2 separate regions of the Homo sapiens genome follow, and region 2 is reported to be linked to region 1. Evidence: microRNA targets listed by miRTarBase, many of them from high-throughput screens and not tested one by one. Region 1 holds a microRNA gene; the other region holds the end of a gene's coding sequence.

Region 1 (7,265 bases):
CAGCACTGGTGTGATTGAGTGCATGACAGTTGCTGGGGCCCTGGGAGAAAGCGTGTCCCAGCCATGAACTCATCTGACCCTACAAGCTGTGGAAGCACAGTCTGTTTTGTGGATGAGGGAACCAGGCAGCCGGACATCTCGCTTCTGACCCATCCCATGCATGAATGTTTAAGAAACACACTTCAGGTCCCAGAGTTGAAGAGCACACAGGCATCGACACTCACGCCTCCCGAACCCTAAGCAGGCTGACACAAAGCTGGCACCGCTGCTCCCCAAGCTGCTCCCTCAACCTTGTGGAGTCCCCTCCCCTTGAATCTGGGCTGGGCGTAGTAATTTGCTTCCAACCCACAGAATATAGCAAGGGACATGGAGCATCCCTTCTGTGATTGGCATAAAAGATGGTGCTTCCATCTTGCTAGCAGACTCTCCTCTTGTGGTTGTGATGGAGCAGGTGGCTGTGCTGGGAGGTCCACATCATAAAGAACTGAGGGTGGCCTCCAGCCAACAGCTAGTCACCACCTGAGGCCCTCAGTCCAATGGCACTCAAGGACCCGAATGCTGCCAACCACAGTGAGTGAGTTTGGAAGTGGAGCTCTCCCCAGATGAGCTCCGGATAAGACCCCAGTCCTGGGTGACACCTTGATTGCAATTTTGGGGCAAGAGGGATCCCGAGGCAGAGATCCTCTGAGATGTTTCTGGATTCCTGACCCTCGGAAGCTGTGAGATGACACACAGGTGTGGTTTTGAGCCTCCAGGCTTTGGGATCATTTGTGATACAGCGGTAAAGAACGCAAGCACAGAGCAGGCTGCCCTTATATGATCAGTCTCCCACCTTTAGGAAGAGTCTTTGAAATCATCCCGACCCTTCTAAGGAGCATTCAGTCTAGTGGCTTCTAGTTTTAAAATGAATTTGAGAAAGTCCCAAAGGGTAGTGAGATTCTTGCTCTGTTAAACATGTCAGTTCTCAACAGATGTCGGGGAATTAGGCTTCTCCCAAACCTACGTGATTTCCATTTGCCAATTGGAAAGAAAAAAAGCAAGATGTTTGGGGCAGAAAGTGCATGTGGCTTTTGTGGAAGTATTCACTCCTGGGATATTACTAGAAAGTGGTGTTTTCCTGGCTGGGGTACAGAAACAGTCCCCAGTCTCCAAGAGAGGCTACTGGGTCATCACAACCCAACCTGAGTCGAGCCAAGGCAGCCTGCAAGTTCTCCCAGCTTGGGAGGGGAGCTGGCAGGAGGGGAGGAGGAGCAGGCCCAGTCCCTCCATCCCCTGCCATCTTTCCCAGGCTGAGGGCATGATGGGGACAGCCCACAGAGCTGGGGATGGTCTCCCAGACCTCAGAGTCCTTTGGAGACCTGGCCATACTGGAAACACAGGCTGTGTGCCTGAGCCTTGTATGTCTGGAGGGGCTCTCCTGGGGGAGCAGCGTCCCCTTGAACACTGCTGGGAGGTCAGGATGGGCTTCCCAGGGCCCCTGGGCAAGGATGGGGATGCTGCTTTCTCATCTTGCAGGCCATTTTGTCAGGGGAAATCTGGACAAACATCCATGCCTCCCATGCCTCAGTGGTCACCCCAGGGCTGTGGGACCTTGTCGCCGGGTCTGCTCTTCCCATGTACTACAGTTGCACATCCACCACCCCCAGACGGCCACATGGCCTTCCTGGACAGCCTGCCTCACTTTGATTGGATCCTCAGCCTGTTTCTTCTCCTCTGTTGAAATTGCTCTCGTGACAAAGTCTCATTTGTGAGATTGTTGGATCAGAATGAATGGCTCCCTTTTATGCTCTGGGTAGTTTCATTATATTAGAAATATTTAAATCTGACTCCCACATCTCCATGCAGTGGTATGTTTCCTATGATATGTATGTAAAATATATGCTTATGTTTTATGTCTGCATCTAAAGCACCCACTGTTTGTTACATGGGCACACCTCCAACTCCACCTAAAGCACACACGATGCTACCTGCGCACACCTCCAACTCCATCTAAAGCACACACAATGCTGCCTGTGCACACCTCCAACTTCATCTAAAGCACACACAGTGCTGCCTGTGCACACCTCCAACTCCATCTAAAGCACACACAATGCTACCTGTGCACACCTCCAGCTTCATCTAAAGCACACACATGCTGCCTGTGCACACCTCCAACTCCATCTAAAGCACACACAATGCTGCCTGTGCACACCTCCAACTCCATCTAAAGCACACACAATGCTACCTGTGCACACCTGCAACTCCATCTAAAGTACACACAATGCTACCTGTGCACACCTCCAACTTCATCTAAAGCACACACAATGCTGCCTGTGCACACCTCCAACTCCATCTAAAGTACACACAATGCTACCTGTGCATACCTGTAACTCCATCTAAAGCACACACAATGCTACCTGTGCACACCTCCAACTTCATCTAAAGCACACACAATGCTACCTGTGCACACCTTCAACTCCATGTAAAGCACACACAATGCTACCTGTGCATACCTCCAACTCCATGTAAAGCACACACAATGCTACCTGTGCACACCTCCAACTCCATGTAAAGCACACACAATGCTACCTGTGCACACCTCCAACTCCATGTAAAGCACACACAATGCTGCCTGTGCACACCTCCAACTCCATCTAAAGCACACACGATGCTACCTGTGCACACCTCCATCTCCTTCTAAAGCACACACAATGCTACCTGTGCACACCTCCAACTCCATCTAAAGCACACACAATGCTGCCTGTGCACACCTCCAACTCCATCTAAAGCACACACAATGCTACCTGTGCACACCTCCAACTCCATTTAAAGCACACACAGTGCTTTGTGCGCACACCTCCAACTCCATCTAAAGCACACACCATGCTACCTGTGCACACCTCCAACTCCATCTAAAGCACACACAATGCTTTGTGCACACCTCCAACTCCATTTAAAGCACACACAGTGCTTTGTGCGCACACCTCCAACTCCATCTAAAGCACACACAATGCTACCTGTGCACACCTCCATCTCCATCTAAAGTACACACAATGCTACCTGTGCACACCTCCATCTAAAGCACACATAATGCTACCTGTGCACACCTGTAACTCCATCTAAAGCACACACAATGCTACCTGTGTACACCTCCAGCTCCATCTAAAGCACACACGATGCTACCTGTGCTCACCTCCAACTCCATCTAAAGCACACACAATGCTACCTGTGCACACCTCCAACTCCATCCAAAGCACACACAATGCTACCTGTGCACACCTGTAACTCTAAAGCATGCAGAACGTTGCATGTGCACACCTCTAACTTTATTCAGTGTGGTTTCCTTCCCTCTTCAGGACGTTTAAGTAGTTGACTTCATTCAGCTGCAGGCCCAGCCCGCTGTGGGCTCTGACGGAAGGCCCTTTCCTGCAGAAGTGCGGGTGTGTGGGGACGGGTGGGGCTACTGTCTCCATGCCGCTGAAGTGAAGTGAGCTCCAAGTGTAGCCGAGCAGAGAACCCTATGGGGTGGGGTGTGGGACCTCACACACTGCAGGTTCTACCACCACCTCCCCGCGGGTGGCTTGGCTTAGAAGGCCTAGAGGTGGACCTAGAATGCGTACTTTTAGGGGGCTCCCCGGATGACTTCAACAGGCAGCCAGGTGGGGGCCACTGATGGGCAGACACCAAGAAACACCAGGAACACTTCTGCTAAGCGCTGGCCTTGTCCCATTAAGAACCTGTGGCTCCCCTGGGAGGTGTGATCCCGTGCTCCCTGGGAGGTGTGATCCCGTGCTCCCTGGGAGGTGTATCCTGTGCTCCCTGGGAGGTATGATCCTGTGCTCCCTGGGAGGTGTATCCTGTGCTTCCTGGGAGGTGTGATATCGTGGTTCCTGGGAGGTGTGATCCTGTGCTTCCTGGAAGGTGTGATCCTGTGCTTCCTGGGAGGTGTGATATCGTGCTTCCTGGGACGTGTGATGCTGTGCTTCCTGGGAGGTGTGATCCCACACTCGCTGGGAGGTGTGATCCCGTGCTCCCTGGGAGGTCTGATCCCGTGCTTTCCTGGGAGGTGTGATCCCGTGCTCCCTGGGAGGTCTGATCCCATGCCTCCTGGGAGGTGTGATATCATGGTTCCTGGGAGGTATGATATCGTGGTTCCTGGGAGGTGTGATCCCGTGCTCCCTGGGAGGTCTGATCCCGTGCTTCCTGGGAGGTATGATATCATGGTTCCTGGGAGGTATGATATCGTGGTTCCTGGGAGGTGTGATCCCGTGCTTCCTGGGAGGTGTGATCCTGTGCTTCCTGGGAGGTGTGATCCCATGCTTCCTGGGAGGTGTGATCCTGTGCTTCCTGGGAGGTGTGATACCATGCTTCCTGGGAGGTGTGATCCCACGCTCACTGGGAGGTGTGATCTCACACTCGCTGGGAGGTGTGCTATCGTCTTCCCTGGGAGGTGTGATCCTGTTCTTCCTGAGCGGTGTGATCCTGTGCTCCCTGGGGGGTCTGATCCTGTGCTTCCTGGGAGGTGTGATATCATGGTTCCTGGGAGGTGTGATCCCGTGCTTCCTGGGAGGTGTGATATTGTGGTTCCTGGGAGGTGTGATCCCGTGCTCCCTGGGAGGTGTGATCCCGTGCTCCCTGGGAGGTGTGATCCCGTGCTCCCTGGGAGGTGTGATCCCGTGCTCCCTGGGAGGTGTGATCCCGTGCTCCCTGTGAGGTCTGATCCTGTGCTTCCTGGGAGGTGTGATATCGTGGTTCCTGGGAGGTGTGATATCGTGGTTCCTGGGAGGTGTGATCCCGTGCTTCCTGGGAGGTGTGATCCTGTGCTTCCTGGAAGGTGTGATATCGTGGTTCCTGGGAGGTGTGATATCGTGGTTCCTGGGAGGTGTGATATCGTGGTTCCTGGGAGGTGTGATATCGTGGTTCCTGGGAGGTGTGATCTGGTGCTCCCTGGGAGGTGTGATCCCATGCTTCCTGGGAGGTGTGATCCCGTGCTTCCTGGGAGGTGTGATCCTGTGCTTCCTGGGAGGTGTGATACCATGCTTCCTGGGAGGTGTGATCCCACGCTCACTGGGAGGTGTGATCTCACACTCGCTGGGAGGTGTGCTATCGTCTTCCCCGGGAGGTGTGATCCTGTTCTTCCTGAGAGGTGTGATCCTGTGCTCCCTGGGGGGTCTGATCCTGTGCTCCCTGGGAGGTGTGATATCATGGTTCCTGGGAGGTGTGATCCTGTGCTTCCTGGGAGGTGTGATATCGTGGTTCCTGGGAGGTGTGATCCCGTGCTTCCTGGGAGGTGTGATACTGTGCTTCCTGGGAGGTGTGATCCCGTGCTCCCCAGGAGGTCTGATCCCGTGCTTCCTGGGAGGTGTGATATCGTGGTTCCTGGGAGGTGTGATATCGTGGTTCCTGGGAGGTGTGATATCGTGGTTCCTGGGAGGTGTGATATTGTGGTTCCTGGGAGGTGTGATCCCGTGCTTCCTGGGAGGTGTGATCCTGTGCTTCCTGGGAGGTGTGATCCTGTGCTTCCTGGGAGGTGTGATCCTGTGCTTCCTGGGAGGTGTGATATCGTGGTTCCTGGGAGGTGTGATCTGGTGCTCCCTGGGAGGTGTGATCCGGTGCTCCCTGGGAGGTGTGATCCTGTGCTTCCTGGGAGGTGTGATCCTGTGCTTCCTGGGAGGTGTGATATCGTGGTTCCTGGGAGGTGTGATCCGGTGCTCCCTGGGAGGTGTGATCCAGTGCTCCCTGGGAGGTGTGATCCCGTGCTCCCTGGGAGGTGTGATCCCATGCTCCCTGGGAGGTGTGATCCCGTGCTCCCTGGGAGGTGTGATCCCGTGCTCCCTGGGAGGTGTGATCCCGTGCTTCCTGGGAGGTGTGATCCCGTGCTTCCTGGGAGGTGTGATCCCGTGCTTCCTGGGAGGTGTGATCCCGTGCTTCCTGGGAGGTGTGATCCTGTGCTTCCTGGGAGGTGTGATCACATGCCTGCTGGTGATAGAGAGGCACAGCTCCCCATTGGGGAACAACCAGGACCCAGCCCTGGGAGGTGTGGATTCAGGAGGGCCCCAGAGGCCTGCATGAGCTAGTGAGAGCTAGGAGGTGGTGTCCGCACTGGGAGCGGGACCCACACAGAGGGCACGTGGGGTAAGCATCAATGAAGTTCCGGGTGTCAGCCAATTGCACCCTCCCAATGGCCCTGGAGCAGTTGCAAAAGCTTCCTGCTCTCCCATCGTCCCCTTCTCCAACCCACTCCCGAATGCAGACGCCCCTGGCCCTCCTGGGTGGCCAGAGCCTGAGGACACTCACTAGGACAGCCCTGGGCAGCTCAAAGGAGCACTTTGGCCTGGCACAGGCCAGCTCCAGGGATGCCCCCACCTTCCTCCACATGCATGGATCGGGTTTCGTCACCAAGACATCTGCAGGACAGGAGCGGGGCCTCTGGCCACATGGCCAGAGTGCCTCCTCCATTCATGGGTCCCATGTGCAAATGGGCAGACAGGAGCTCTGAGCAGCAGATTCCCCGAGGCCACATGGGGCACTGGTGGCATCTGAGCCTGGGTCGCTGAGGCAGCTGTCCTCAGCCTGGTCTCACCAGGCCACAGCTGTCAGTGGGTAAACGTGTGTGCGCGTGTGTGTGTGCTCCTGCGGCACTGTGGGGGTCATGCCTGTGGCTGAGCATCTCCTGGAATTCTCTCGTCTCACTTTCGACCTCCTCTTCTCAGCAAATCCCATCAACCCCATCTTTGAAACACCTGGAGCCGGAGTGTGACCCACTCTCATGGGTCTGCACCGCCCCCAGCCTGCGTCTGGGTTACTGCCCCGTGTGGCTTCCCTCCCCATCTCTGCTCAGGCCACACCAGCCCCCTCCCACTTCCCCTTCCTCTCCCCACTCCCTCTGGCCTCTGCCCTGCTGTTCCCTCTCCTGCAAAGCCCTTCCTGCCCGCTGGGCTCCAGGCAGAGAGAACCTTCCCAGTGGCCCTGGTCACCCAGGAGAGCACTTCAATCCCCACCCCACACACACTACACACCCCATACACACAGGCACACACACCACACCCACACACACACTATACAGACACAGCACAAACCACACACACAGGCATGCACACTATACACATGCAGCACACACCACACACACAGGCACATTCCCCACAGGCACGCACACATATACCATACACACGCCAGCACACACACCACACAGGCACATGCACAAACACCACCTCCACACACAGGCATACACCACACACACACACACCACACACACCACACACACAGGCACACACACCACATACACA
Region 2 (7,000 bases), not on the chromosome of region 1:
GTACTTTGAGGGGACTGAGTGTGGGGTTATGTGGGGTGGGTCACTCTTGGCGCAGCCCTCCTGTGGCAGCAGACCAGCTGGGAATCTTTGTCCTAGGGATGTGTTTGCTGAATCATGGCTTCCATGGTTGTTGGTTGGTTTGTTTGTTTTTGAGACAGGGTCTCACTCTGTTGCCCAGGCTGGAGTGCAGCAGCGCAATCTTGGCTCACTGTAGCCTTCACCTTCCAGGTTCCAGCAATTCTCCTGCCTCAGCCTCCAGAGTAGCTGGGACTACCGGCACCTGCCACCACACCCAGCTAATTTTTATATTTTTAGTGGAGACGGGGTTTCACCATGTTGGCCAGGCTGGTCTCAAACCTCTGACCTCAAGTGATCAGCCCGCCTTGGCCTCCCAAAGTGCTGGGATTACAGGCGTGAGCCACCACACCTGGCCCATGGTGTTTCTTTGTCATTCTTCCATTGCTGAGAAGATATGGTTGCATCTCTCTAAGAGTTAAATATGTCTGTGGTATGACTCCACTTTACACAGATTCTACCCTTCATGAATTCTGCCTTGATTTTCTATAAACACGGCCCGTCTTTCTCATACAGTTTATGTGTAGTCTGGAGTCATGAACTTGGCCTGGCCCTTCAAGGAAAGGAACTGACTCATTCATACCTACCTTGGGGCCACCTGGCCCATGGTGGGTGTTCAAACGTGTCTCTGTTGAAGGAGTACATAAAAGGCGGCACCTTCTGGAACCCATTGCTTGATTGATATCACAACAGGGCTTTCTCTGCATCTAAAAATAATTTTTTCCTCTGTTTCTCTCTTTATAGGACTTCAGAAATGGGCTTGGGAACCAGCTGAGTTCAGGATCCCACACCTCTGCTGCATCTCAGTGTGACTCAGCGAGTTCCAGAATGGTGCTGCCCATGCCAAGGCTACATCAAGACTGTGCGCTGAGGATGTCCGTGGGCTTGGCTCTGCTGGGTCTTCTTTTTGCTTTTTTTGTCAAGGTCTATAATTAGAATACAACTAATGGAAACATCTATAAAGAAGAATACATTTCTAATTAAAATCTTCAATGAACAGGAAAGCGACATCTCCATTCTCCAAGGGCAATAATTTGTACTGGTCATGCTGCCTCCTTCTCAGCCACTCTTCTTAATGAGGCTCCCCCTGTCTCACATTGAGTTGGGCCCATTGGTTATTTGACCTAAAACCTAATCACCGCTACCATAGCACATCCTTCAAATTAAACTGCTTTTGGTTTACTTTTAGCAAGAAATGCAAGCGGTTGCATTTTTTTCTGTTTGTTTCAATCTCTAATCTTTAAGTCAGAACCTAATTGTACAGTGGCTCTGGCCATCTTTTCCTCATGTGGAAGAATTTTCTATCTTTAATAAACTTTTTCTTTGTTTTTTTTTTCCAGATGGAGTTTCGCTCTTGTCCCCCAGGCTGGAGTGGTGCAGTGGCACGATCTCAGGTCACTGCAACCTCTGCCTCCTGGGTTCAAACGATTCTCCTGCCTCAGCCTCCCAAGTAGCTGGGATTACAGGCATGCGCCACCAAGCCCAGACAATTTTTTTGTGTTTTCAGTAGAGACGGAGTTTCACCATGTTGGCCAGGCTAGTCTCGAACTCCTGACCTCAAGTGATCCGCCCGCCTCGGCCTCCCAAAGTGCTAGGATTACAGGCGTGAGCCACTGCGCCCGGCCTCTTTAATAAATATTTTTAAGTGCATCTTCCCCTTCAGGCTTTGTTTGGAGTCCCAGTGCTACAAACATTGTATTTTTCACAGCAGATGTGTTCCTGAAAAGTGTATAGAAACCTGTTCTGGGAACCTGAATGCTTTTGGAATGCACGGGGAGAGTCTGCCAGCTAAAGGACTCCTGGCAACATTCTGTGAAATATGAAACTGGAAAACTGGATTTGTCGAAAACTAATTGTGCCCATTTTCTCACATTTTTGATCCATTGGGGTTTTTTTTTTGTTTTTGTTTTTTTTTTTTTTTGAGTCAAGGTCTCACTCTGTCACCCTGGCTGGAGTGCAATGGCACTATCTTGGCTCACTGCAGCCTTGACCTCCTGGACTCAAGCAGTCCTCCTACCTCAGCCTCCCTAATAGCCAGGGGCTACAGGCATATACCACCATGCCCAACTAATTTTTTAATTTTTTGTAGAGATGAGTGTCACTATGTTGCCCAGGCTTGCCTGGAACTCCTAGCCTCAAGCAGTCTTCTTGCCTCAGCCTCCCAAAGTGCTGGGATTACAGGCGTGAGCCACTCCACCCAGCCCAGATTAAATGTTTTTATTTCTACCTGCCATCATTGGTCTTTACTAAGTGAAGTGACTTCTTTCTTTAACAATAAATAGAATTGGTATACTAAGCAAATCCTATGTTTTTGAGAATTTATTTGGATTGCATAGGTACAGGAAAACCAGGTACCGTGTAGTTACCATAGGATATTTTCCATCTCGAAACCCATACCCCTCTTCAGCTCTTACATTTAACTCAAAATGTTTGTGTTTTGTGTGTCTTTTAAGGAACCCAAATTAAAATTCAGTCATGTCCTAGTTGGTAAATTATAAAATATATATGCTTTTAGTGTTAGTACATTTCTCCTGGAACTGGTATGTGCTTCTAAGAGGTGCTCACATTTAGAATGCAAAAATCCTCCTGTGCTGCTTCTAGTCCTGCAGTGAAACATCCACTTGGGAGCACCCCTCACTTCTTAGCAGGAATGAGAAGAGGACAAGAACCTACCATGTGCCTCCCTTCTTGAGCTCTACGCAGTCATTTCTTTGTTAATAAACAGTGGGTTCCAGTGTGGTGCTCATTTAACAAAAACCTAGCAGAGATAAAAATGCCATCCAAAGCCTAGAGTTGCACTAGATCAGACATAGAGAAAGCTTTACACCTGTAACTGATTGGAGACAAAAAGGATTTTTTCTACCTCCCTTTTCTCTTTCCCTACTCTTTTCCTCACTCCCTCATCTGTTTATTTCCTCCCTTCTAGCTCTATGCTGTCCTCGCCTTTTTTCATTTTTTTCTTCCTGTAAGAGAATGATACACCCAGTCATCCAAATTCCCCCCCTGCTGCTCTCACCTACCATGGCAGGGATCCTCAAGGATCGTTTCAGCTGTACAGGATTCTCCCTACTTCCTGCTGTGACTGTTATTTACCCTCAATTTGGCTGCAGCTTCACTCTGCCGTTTGACCCAGAAAGGGACCGAGGTCACTGCCCGCAGCAGACGCTGGACCTTCATGAAATCAGTCTCCATACTGGCGACCAATTGGTGAGAGGGGTAGCAGTGTTCTGGAAATCCAGGGTTTTTCTTCCCCCTGTGACCTCCATCTCTAGGGAGGGGGAGGGAGAGAGCAGAGAAGGATGCAGTGCAAGTTAAAAACAGTTTTCTTAAGCCCTGGACTCTGAATGGGGCTGAGTCTGGGAACCACGGGAGCAAGTGTGATCATGAGTAGAGCTGTTACTTTTCCAGCCTGTCTCCTTCCTGCCCACAGTGCAACTGCGCTTCTCCCGCCCCGCTGAAGTTAGGCACGAAATGTGAAATGTGAGCGGAAGGGTCACGTCCTTCTTCGGGGCAGACATGTTCAGAGCTGGTGTACGGTTTACTGTGTGCTCTTCCCACTGCTGTGGTGATCCTGGACCCATATGTCAGAATGACGCCTCCCCGACCCTGGGTCCCTGAGTTAGTACAGTTGAGTAGGGCTCCTGGCCAGCATGTGCTACATAGGCATCAGGAACCAGAAATATATTGTGGTTGTGTTAAGCCACCGGCATCTGGGGGTCGTAGCCGTAGCATTCGTAACCTGATTTATACGAAGTGTCAGCCGTGATAGGATGCTTGACCCGCAGATTGTAAATGTAATTGTTATGTTTTCTTTGTATGCTTTTGTATGCTTTGCATTAGTATCAAGGGGTGTGTGTGTGTGTGTGTGTGTGTGTGTGTGTGTGTGTACTTCTCTGCTGAGAAGGAAACCTATGAAGTGATCTTTTCAATGCTTTGGCCAATTTTTTTCTTAAACTCTTTACTAGAATAAAACATACATATGAAATGGACATAAATCATAGGGATACAGGGATTTTTAAAAACTGAGCAAGCATTGTAGCCAGCACCAGGAGGCTCCCCATGTACCCTCCTAGCCATTAAGTCTGCCCCGCAAGGAGTAACCAGTATCCTTATTTCTAACATTACAGATTGATTTGCCTGATTCTAAACTTTCTATAAGTGGAATCATGTAGTATGCACTATTTCATGTCTACCTTCTTTTGTTCTACAGTGATTGTGAGACACATCCAGATTATTGTGTGAGCAGTAATTACTTCACGTTCATTGCTGAATAGTATTTCAGTGTATGAGTACACCACATTGTTCATTCTACATTTGAGTTCTTTCCAATTTTTTGTCTATTATGAATAATGCTGCTATAAACACGTTTTGTTAAGTGTTTATGTGATGATGTGAGGAGTACATGTCTAGGGGTGGAATTGCTGGGTCATAGCATTTGCATATGTTCAGCTTAGATACTGCTAAATGGTTTTCTGAAGTGGTTGTACCAATTTACATCCCCACCAGCAGTTGACATGAATTCTGTCATTCTCCCACTATTTTTTCTCTTTGGACCTTAGATATTCTTCAGCAGACCTTGTCTCTGCTGTCTCCCTTCCACAAGTCATTCCTATTTTAATAGTAATGATAATATTGACAACCATTAACTGTCTAGTCCTTAAATGAAATGCACTGGATGTTATACTTTGCACTTAACAGGTGTTAATCAGTCCTGAAGAAAAAATTTTGAGATACGTATTGTGATTCCCATCATACTGAGAAGAAAATCTAAAACTCAAAAGACTAAGTAACTTGTGCAAGAGGCACAGAGCTCTTAAGTTTAGAGGCAGGACTGGTACACAGCCTGACTCCAAAGCATATACTCCTCTTCTGTAAACTCCTCCTGCTCCTCTGTCCCATCTTTGACTTAAACTTGACCTGTGCCAACAGATACACATTTAGGATCAATCCTGTGGATGCCTGAGCTTGGGGGCCTTCAGCCTTTCAGTCTGTGTTGTCCTGCTCCAAGAATGTGCATGGTACTTGATATACTTTTTAAATAAAGATTTACTAATCAAGCTTTTTTCTTTGCCCTGCCCCCTCCTTCCTTCCTTCTTTCTTTCCCTCCTTTCTATTGTCCCTGCTTCATCTTATCATCCCTGCTTCCTTTCTTATCATCCCAGCATGAGATAGTCAGTTTGAGAATGTAAAGAATTCTTGGGTTAAAACTTTGCTTTGTTGCTGGGAAAATGTGTCTAAACATCAGATTTCCATATGTCATTCAGTCAAAACATATACTACTTCTACTGACTTCACTCCAGGTTGAAAATTTCAGTGTATATTGTAAGATGTCATGGAGGGAGAATTAGAGTTACAAATCAAGCTTCAAGAGGGTTTGTCATCATAAAACAAACATAGGAAAAAAATGAAGAGAGAGAGGGAGGGAAGAGAAGAAAGGAGGGGAGAGAAAAGGAAGAAAAAGAAAAGGAGAAAAGATATTCTTAAGGCTTGCAGCAACAACAAAAAAGGTAATCATATGAGATGATGGGTATGGTAATTCACTTGACTGTAGCCACCATTTTGCTGTGTATATGTGTATCAATACATGTTCACCTTAAATACTCACAATAAAAAATGAATATGTACGTTTTCTAAAAGGTTTGCTGGTCCCCCCAGGCACCCCAGGATGCTGTGGCACATTCACAGGAGCACCCTGGGATTCCTTAAATTTTTGGAGGGAACACAGCAACATCTGTCAGATACCAGGCCAACTACCAGCTCAAAATAGTTCACAGTTTTCAACGTTAGATTTCACAAATTTTGATGACACCATGTCTTTATAAAACTGGATTTTCAGCAATTGCTGTGATAAAAAGCAAGTATCAAGTGAAAATCAATGTGGAACAAGAAGTGAAAATTGTGATCATAGTCCAAGGTTTGAGAAGGGGTGCTGTACCCAACAGATGCACAGCTGCCATTAATAAGTAAAATTAATATGAAATAAAATATTAATATTTTTATCTAAGTTACATGTATTATTTTTTCAAACGGTTCTCATAAGATAGTAGGATATAAATGCTTATTCAGTTGTCAGGATTACCTATTTAAACAGAAGGTTAGCTGCTGCTTTTGGCCTAGGGGTACAAACAATCAAGAAAGTTTGAAAACCTCTGCTCTATGATACAACCTAATTTAAAGGATCCATGTCAAACTTATAATCTGGAGTCCTAATCCCTTCTCAAAATATTTTCCCCTTACTTTAAAGTTAGATTATCCATAGCATGTGTTTGATAAATTTACACTGGACTTGCCGTTGAGTTTGATTTTTATGATGTTGAAACTGTAAAGGAGTTAACAATCAGAATCACTTGGATTCAGCTCTCAGTTGTTTCCAATACAAATTTGAGGCAGAAAATATAAGGAAAGACCATGAGATTTTTGACATCAGCAAAACTTTAAATTCCAGCCAGACCACTTTTTCTTTTTGAGCCACATCTCTAAAACAGGAACAAGATTCCATTGTGGGTCATTGAAAGATAAGTGAACTCATGCATATAAAATACTGTATTCTTGACACATGACATTTCCTCCTCTTTTTTGATTACTGTAGCCACTTAAAGGTGAAAAATACCTTTATAAATAAAGTTAGGTGTTTTAAATTCTGATATCAACACATGACCACCCAAAAGATTTATATATGGAATAAAAAGATTCCTACCTTGAGAGAGATAGAGTCTGATTCTAACAAATGCAGCAAAGGAAGAAAAATTCAAAGGCAATGGACTGCAGCTGTATTTGAGGAGATCAAATTAATGAATAGTGTGGAGCACAGATTTGGGTGGCCAATCTAAGATCAAGAAGGAGATTTTCCATGGCCAAAGATGAAAAGAGCAACCAGATTAATAGGGAGGCCTAGAAGTCATGCCCTCCCCCATCCTGCTTTGAG

What was found. Region 1 holds the annotated microRNA hsa-miR-3689a-3p (CUGGGAGGUGUGAUAUCGUGGU, at 5,215-5,236, shown strand). A microRNA usually pairs through its seed, bases 2 to 8, with sites in the 3' UTR of a target mRNA and lowers its output. Matches are read on the target gene's strand: a 7mer-m8 pairs with bases 2 to 8, a 7mer-A1 pairs with bases 2 to 7 and ends in A, and an 8mer does both.
Region 2: the mRNA of CDKAL1 is a reported target of hsa-miR-3689a-3p. Seed matches in the 3' UTR shown: 8mer at 1,518-1,525, 8mer at 1,655-1,662 and 8mer at 2,233-2,240.

The regions. Positions count from the first base shown.
Region 1 is chr9:134,847,465-134,854,729 of GRCh38, reverse strand. It overlaps MIR3689A (microRNA 3689a), which reads left to right and starts at 5,166; the gene lies at 5,166-5,243. It overlaps MIR3689C (microRNA 3689c), which reads left to right and starts at 5,361; the gene lies at 5,361-5,432. It overlaps MIR3689D1 (microRNA 3689d-1), which reads left to right and starts at 5,048; the gene lies at 5,048-5,121. It overlaps MIR3689B (microRNA 3689b), which reads left to right and starts at 4,458; the gene lies at 4,458-4,605. It also overlaps MIR3689D2, MIR3689E, MIR3689F and LOC101448202.
Region 2 is chr6:21,230,029-21,237,028 of GRCh38, forward strand. It overlaps CDKAL1 (CDKAL1 threonylcarbamoyladenosine tRNA methylthiotransferase), which reads left to right. Exons shown (of 16, transcript NM_017774.3): 16 at 820-2,376. The coding sequence ends at 1,011. LOC107986578 (a long non-coding RNA gene) reads right to left here and starts at 1,031. Exons shown (of 2, transcript XR_001744021.2): 1 at 663-1,031. RefSeq lists an enhancer at 193-1,392.